Linked DNA regions of Homo sapiens. The protein of the gene in region 1 interacts with the protein of each later gene in a biochemical or structural test. Each region holds a gene or a part of one and is shown in the gene's direction. Other genes may lie near its edges.

Evidence for each region. The genes of interacting proteins can lie anywhere in the genome.
Region 2: the proteins of EPS15 (region 1) and UBQLN1 form a complex in vitro, tested with the Homo sapiens proteins (one study listed by BioGRID).

What each region holds. Positions count from the first base shown.
Region 1 is NC_000001.11:51,404,112-51,407,965, reverse strand, and holds part of EPS15 (epidermal growth factor receptor substrate 15), read left to right. Parts: intron 1-1,857; coding exon 1,858-2,061; intron 2,062-3,854. UniProt on the Homo sapiens protein: Involved in cell growth regulation. May be involved in the regulation of mitogenic signals and control of cell proliferation. Involved in the internalization of ligand-inducible receptors of the receptor tyrosine kinase (RTK) type, in particular EGFR.
Region 2 is NC_000009.12:83,701,459-83,704,958, reverse strand, and holds part of UBQLN1 (ubiquilin-1), read left to right. Parts: intron 1-3,500. UniProt on the Homo sapiens protein: Plays an important role in the regulation of different protein degradation mechanisms and pathways including ubiquitin-proteasome system (UPS), autophagy and endoplasmic reticulum-associated protein degradation (ERAD) pathway.

The sequences.
Region 1 (3,854 bases):
ACATCTTGTATATCTATCTGATGATTATCATTGGAGTAGTGATTAAGAGTGTGGGCTTTGTGGCTAGATGGTCTAGGTTTAAGTACTGGTGTGCCACTTACTAGCTAAATCACCTTAGTATCAGATTCTTCATCTTCAAAATTGGAGGATTAATAAATACCCTACCCCTTAGGGCCACTGTGAGGATTAATGAGGCAAAACCTGTAAGACATTTTAGCATGGTGCTTGGTACATAAATGCTCCATAAGTGTTGCCTGTTTTATAAACAATAACCTAGTTTCTTCTGTTTTGTGATTCTAATTTTGAATTCACATTTGCTAATTTGGAAACTTTTTTCTTAAGGAAATTGTTCCTTCTGTAGATAAATTTGCAGTGTTATAGTTGGTCTTATGTATAGATCCTTTGCTTTATTTCCAGGTTTCCCTACATGAAGACTAATGTTTTAATGAATGATAAGATAGTTAGGGCTCGGCATGGTGGTGGCCCATGCCTGTAATCCCAGCACTTTGGGAGGCTGAGGCAATGGATCACTTGAGGCCGGGAGTTCGAGACCAGCCCTGCCAACATGGCCAAACTCTGTTTCTACTAAAAGGTACAAAAATTAACTGGGCATGGTGGTACCTGCCTGTAATTCCAGCTACTTGGGAGGCTGAGGCACGAGAATCACTTGAGCCTGGGAGGCAGAGGTTGCAGTGAGCTCAGATCACACCACTGCACTCCACCCTGGGCAACAGAGTGAGAATCTGTCTCAAAAAATAAAAACTAAAAAAAAAAGGATAGAAACACAGAGATCATGGAGTTGATTTCTTTCATTATGAATTTGAACAAACTAAAGCCAAGGAAGTTCAAGTAACTTTCTCAAGGTTACATATCCTTGAAAAGAGCTACATCTAAAATCCAGTTCTTCTAAAACCCAGTCCAGTGTGCTCAGTTATTACATATAATGAAGTCCTTCACTTTTGCGCTTCCTTACCCCCTGTTATCTGGCAGCTGAGTACCTACCTACTCATTCGTCATGCAAGATATACCTTAAATTCTTATTTCTTTATGGTATTTTCTGCATCCTGCTTTTGTTGGACTTTGTATTTATGTTACAGCAATAATAAGATTTTTCCCTGCATATTTGCTTATATGTCTGTCTCCCCTAGCAGAGTCATGGTTTTGGTCTGGGAACTTACACATTTTTAAAAATCCGTATCATTTAGCACAGTTCTTGTCCCAGTGTAGGTACTCAATAAACAGGTAACCTGAAAGAGTTGTTGTAGTGAGAATGCTACCAGATGAATGGGTATTCTTTAAAGTATTTTCTTTTTTTGAATCTCTTTAAAAAAAAAATCCATGTATACTAAAATTTCAAGAGAGAAATACTTATTGTCAGAAATTACTGAATCTTTTCTCTAAGTCACGTAGCATTCCCAGAGGATTCTTCTTAAAGGAAGCAAATGTATCCTAGACCAAGTCTACAGGTATAGCCATTTTTATTTTATTTATTTTTTTGAGACAGGGTCTCATTCTGTCACTCGAGTGCAGTGGTGTGATCATGGCTCACTGCAGCCTTGACCTCTGGGCTCAAGTGATCCTCCCATCTCAGCCTTCTGAGTAGCTGGGACTACAGGTGCACTCCATCATGCCCAGCTAATTTTTATATTTCTTGTAGAAATGAGGTTTCACCGTGTTGCTCAGGCTGGTCTTGAACTCCTGGGCTGAAGCAGTCCTCCTGCCTCAGTTTCCCAAAGTGTTGAGATTATAGGCATGAGCTACCACACCTAGCCCGTCAGGAAGTGGAGGAGGGCGTTTTTATGTTACATGTCTTTCTAGTAATAAATTCTGTTCTATATTTCTTCTTTGTGTTGGCAGATGCAAATGAAACTGATGGAAATGAAAGATTTGGAAAATCATAATAGTCAGTTAAATTGGTGCAGTAGCCCACACAGCATTCTTGTAAACGGAGCTACAGATTATTGCAGCCTCAGCACCAGCAGCAGTGAAACAGCCAACCTTAATGAACATGTTGAAGGCCAGAGCAACCTAGAGTCTGAGCCCATACACCAGGAATCTCCAGTGAGTCTAATACTTTCATAACCTTCATAATCAACCTCCTTGTGCAGATCCAAGTTTCACTGACATTATATCTAATATAAATACATGGCCTTGCCTCATCTGAGGACAATTGAGATTTCCTTTTTAGAAGCAGAGAGTCCTAATCCAAACAATTGTACGTTTTAACTAGTATAAAAAGATAACTTTAGCTAATTTTTTTTTTTTTGGAGATGGAGTTTTGCTCTTGTTGCCCAGGCTGGAGTGCAGTGGTGCGATCTTGGCTTACTGCAACCTCCGTCTCCTGGGTTCAAGCAATTCTCCTGCCTCAGCCTCCTGAGTAGCTGGGATTACAGTCACGTGCCACCACACTCAGCTAATTTTTTGTATTTTTAGTAGAGATGGGGTTTCATCATGTTGGCCAGGCTGGTTTCGAACTCCTGACCTCAAGTGACCCATCTGCCTCGGCCTCCCAAAGTGCAGGGATTACAGGCGTGAGCCACCACGCCCAGCCAGCTAATTTATTTTTTGTAGAGCCTGTTTTTAAAATGGTGGTTCTATAGAGTAAAACTTTTTTTTTAAGTACCCTCACCAAAAGCTAAAATTATTTTTATTACGTAGTGTTAAGGACATTCATTTACCAATTATTTGACGAGTACCAACTATGTGCAAGAGTGCTGTATTACATAATATAAGAGCTACAGAGACAAGAGACCTCAGTCTTTCCTTCAAGCAGCCTACAGTGTAGTAGTGTAACACTGTGTTAAAGGGCTGTGCTAAAGGAAGCGCAGAATTTTCAGTTAGGACAGTTTGGAGGGGGTTCATAAAGATTTTGTTGGGGAAAGCTTTGCGAGTTTAGACAAGTGAGAAGTGGTTAAGCAAAGAAGAGGAGGATACATTCCTGCCAGAGAAAACAGTATTAGTATAGGTACAAGGTGGAAGAATACATGCAGCACAGAATCTTGAGAAGTTCTGAAGGATATCTTGTGATGGTGGAGAGGGTATTGGTAAGAGATGAGGCGCTTCTAGTAGGCATCTGCATTACCTCTGGTGATTGTCAAAGTATAAATGTGTATCCCTTTCCCCAAACTTGCTGAACTAGTTTCTGGGATAGAGCCAGATATGTATATTTTAAAAACACACTCTATGGGTGATTGTCATGTGCACCTGGATAAAAATGACCAATTTTAGGTCAGAAAGTGCCAGAAGATGAGAAATTTAGATTCATCTTAAAGCATTGGGGGATTTATCCTACTGCAATGAACAGCCATTGAAGAATTTTAAGCAAGAAGTGACGTGATTAACTTTTAGAAATGTGGAAAACGGATTAGAGAGTGAGACTGTACCCGTAGAAGGGATAATGAGAAGAATAGAAGTTTGAGAGGTATTAAAAGTGAAAAGTTAACAGACTCGATTTTATTTACACAGTGCAGTCATGTATGCATTATAAAATATTCTTTCAAGCGCAAAAGGCAGATTACTAGGTTATCCTGCAAATAGATAAGGGTGGTATAAAGTAGCTATTGCCCTGCTACTTTTTTTTTTTTTTTTGAGACGGAGTCTCGCTCTGTTGCCCAGGCTGGAGTGCAGTGGCGCAATCTCAGCTCACTGCAACCTCTGCCTCCTGGGTTCAAGCTATTCTCCTGCCTCAGCCTCCCGGGTTTAAGCTATTCTCCTGCCTCAGCCTCCCGAGTAGCTGGGACTACAGGCGTGTGCCACCACACCTGGCTAATTTTTTGCATTTTTAGTAGAGACGGGGTTTCACCGTGTTAGCCAGGAAGGTCTCGATCTCCTGACCTTGTGATCTGCCTGCCTCG
Region 2 (3,500 bases), on another chromosome or scaffold:
CTTTCAGTCAATATATGATGTTATAGCTGTGAGGATGTTTTTGCTTTTTGTGATGTTAAAATTATAAATTCTGTGAACGCTTTTATTTTACTCTGCTGTAACCAAAGTGAGATTTTTTTTTTTTTTTTTTTTTTGAGATGGAGTCTCTGTCACCCCCCAGGCTGGAGTGCAATGGCATGGTGTCGGCTCACTGCAACCTCCCCTTCCCGGGTTCAAGGATTCTCCCACCCCAGCTTCCCTAGTAGCTGAGACTACAGGCGCATGCCACACCACACCCGGCTAATTTTCCTATTTGTAGTAGAGACAGGGTTTCACCATGTTGGCCAGGCTGGTCTCGAACTCCTGATCTTGTGATCCGCCTGCCTCGGCTTCCCAAAGTGCTAGGATTACAGGTGTGAACCACCGGGCACCCGGCCCAGTACGAATTGTTAATAGATAAAATTAAAGTCTTTCTGAAGTAGCCTTTTCTGATGGTAGTTTATTTTTAAATTCTTGATCATTGTTTTATGTTGAAGCAGAAAATGTGATAAAAATTGACGCTTATCACCACACCAGAGAACCTGTAGACAAGTTGGGCTTTGTATATGCAAGGGAAACAGATACAGGAAAATGTGGAAGAAAAAGAAAAGCAGTTTTCAAATGACCTATTTGTAAAATCTACTTGAAGCACAAAAGATATGCCATTTTATAATTTAAAAATTTTAAAGGGTTTGATTGAAACTGTTTGTTACAAATGAAAATTTGTCATTAAAAATACTTAATGACATTAAAATTCCACTGAAAGTGTCCAGTTAGAAATTGGGAAATATTTAGTCTTTAAAATTTGTACCTAATTTTGGAGGGTCAGAGGGTAAGCCGAAGACCTCCAGAGGATAATATTGAAGGCTTATGCTCTGTATCAGACAAATTCCGTTTTCTATAAGTTAAAATTTCTTTCAATAAGTATTTCTATGTAATGTAGATTCCTTAACACATTATACCAAAATTCTGTTTATATGAACATGCTGTAATAAGTGATTAGATGAAATTACGTTAAACTTCTTGGGTAAATTGTAAGGTGGTAATTTATTTTCCTATTTTTCCATTGGTTTCTGGTCGTGAGTACCAACAGGCAGAAACAGGTTGCCTTAATTTTTTACAGTGCTATATACATTTGGTATTTAATAATGTTACTTGTTCAAGGTTACTAATAAAGCTTAAGCTTTTTTCCAATTTAGAGTGAAATTTATTATTCACGGAGCACTCAGAATCAACTGAGTAACATAAATTTTTACTTACAGGTTGCTAGAATAGGTAGTGAGAATATAAACTGCACTGTGTACATTCCAAGGTGCTGTCATTAATAGAGATTTTTGTAATACAGGTTTTGAGTATCCCTTATGGGAAATGCTTGGGACCAGAAGTGTTTGGGACTTTGGATTTTCTTTTTTTTTGGATTTTGGAATATTTGTATATACATAATGAGATATCTTGGGGATGGCACCTAAATATAAACATGAAATTCAGTTATATTTCATGTACATTTTATGCACAGAGCCTAAAGGTAATTTTATACAATATTTTAAATAATTTTGCGAGTGAAACAAACTGTATACATTGAACCATCAGAAAGCAAAGGTGTTACATATGGGATTTTTCCACATGTGATGTCATGGTGTTAAAAAATTTCAGATTTTGGAGCATTTCAGATTTCATATTTTTGGATTGGGGATGCTCAACCTGTATGTAAGTAAATAGATACAAAAGCATAAATGTGTAGTGGCACAAAGTCCCTGTGTATGAGATTTTTTTTTTTTGGTTAATTGTTCATCATCAGCTATTGAAAAGAGCTTTGAGGATTTCCAAGTATCCACGAGCAAGATAACATCTAGAAGAATGGAGAGTTATATATGTGAGACATTAGTGCAGATAATGGAGGGGAGTTTCTGTGTAACTTCTAATTAGCTTATTCTGGGATTTCATAGACTGTTAGGTTATGTGTAAAATTTTGAAGTACATTTACTTGAAATGTTCAGGCAGTATATACTCTGGTTTTAGAAAGTGCCTTCTGTCAGTGCAAACTTCTGGGAAAATATTAATATACTTAGACATAATTTAAACGTATTGAGTCAAATTGAGCCTTTCTTTGATAAGGCAACTTGCCTTAGGGTCATCATCACACACATGATTTAACGTTATACTGTATAGTGTGGATCTAGAACTATACTGTCCACTTTGATACCATCACCCACATGTGGTTAAGTACTTAAAAAGTGAGATGTGTTAAGTGTAAAATTTATACCAGATTTTGAAAATTTGGTATGAACAAAATAAATATCTTAATACTTTTGATATATTATGTATTGAAATAGTATTTTGCAGATCGTGAGTTAAGTAAAATATCAAAATTAATTTGACCTTTTATTAAAAACTTTTTTTTCAGTATGGCTGCTTAAAATTTTTAAATTACTTGTGGCTTATATATATTTCTGCTGGACAACATCTTATCCAGAAGGTTGGATTGAATCAGTATAGCAAGATATCTGAGAAAAAAAATGTCTGTGAGATCATTGTTTTCTTATTTGCTTTGTTCTAATACTGGACAGCTGAAAAACTCGTTATTTAATGATTCTGATTAACAGAGATTGCTTAGCTTTTTTTAAGAAAGAGCGTAATTGAAGTGTAATTTGCCTACCATACAGTTCACCATTTTAAAGTCTGTAATTGATGTAATACATTCACAGGGTCGTGTAGTCAATTTTAGAACGTTTAGAACCCTCAAAAAGAAACGCTGTACCCTTTAGCAGTTGCCCTTCGTTTCTCCCTGGGCCCCCCAGCCTTAGGCAACTACTGATCTATTTTTTGTCTATAGATTTGCTTGTTCTGGGCGTTTGTTGTAAGTGGAATCATGTGGTCTTTTGTGATTGGCTTTCACTTAGCATAGTGTTTTCAAGGTTCATCCCTGTTGAAGCATGTGCCGGTACTTACTTCCTTTTTATTGCCGAATAACATTCCATTGTGTTGCCAACAGCATTCCACATTTTATTTTTCTATCACGTGGTGGACATTGGGTTGTTTCTACTTTCTGGCTATTGTGACTAATGCCTCTGAACACTCATGTATAAGTTTTTGTGGGGACATAACGTTTTCATTTTTCTTGGGTGTAGATCTTGGAGTGGAAATTGCTGGGTCAAAGCTCTATGTTGAGCTTTATGAGGAGCTGCCAAATTATTTTCTAAGGTGTCTGTACCATTTTACATTTCCACTAGCAATGCATGAGGATTCCGATAACCACATTCTCGGTAATACTTATTACTGTCTTTGTGATTATAGCCATCTTACTGGCTGTGAAATGGTATCTTACTGTGATTATTTTGCTTTTTATTTTCATTATTATTTTTGCTGGGGGCACTCTGAGGAAAACTGGACAGCCTGCTAGACAAATTTGCTTTTTGTTATCTGAGCAGTAGTTCTCACTGTGGTTTGGGGAGTCCCCATACCCTGTTAAGGGTACCATGAGA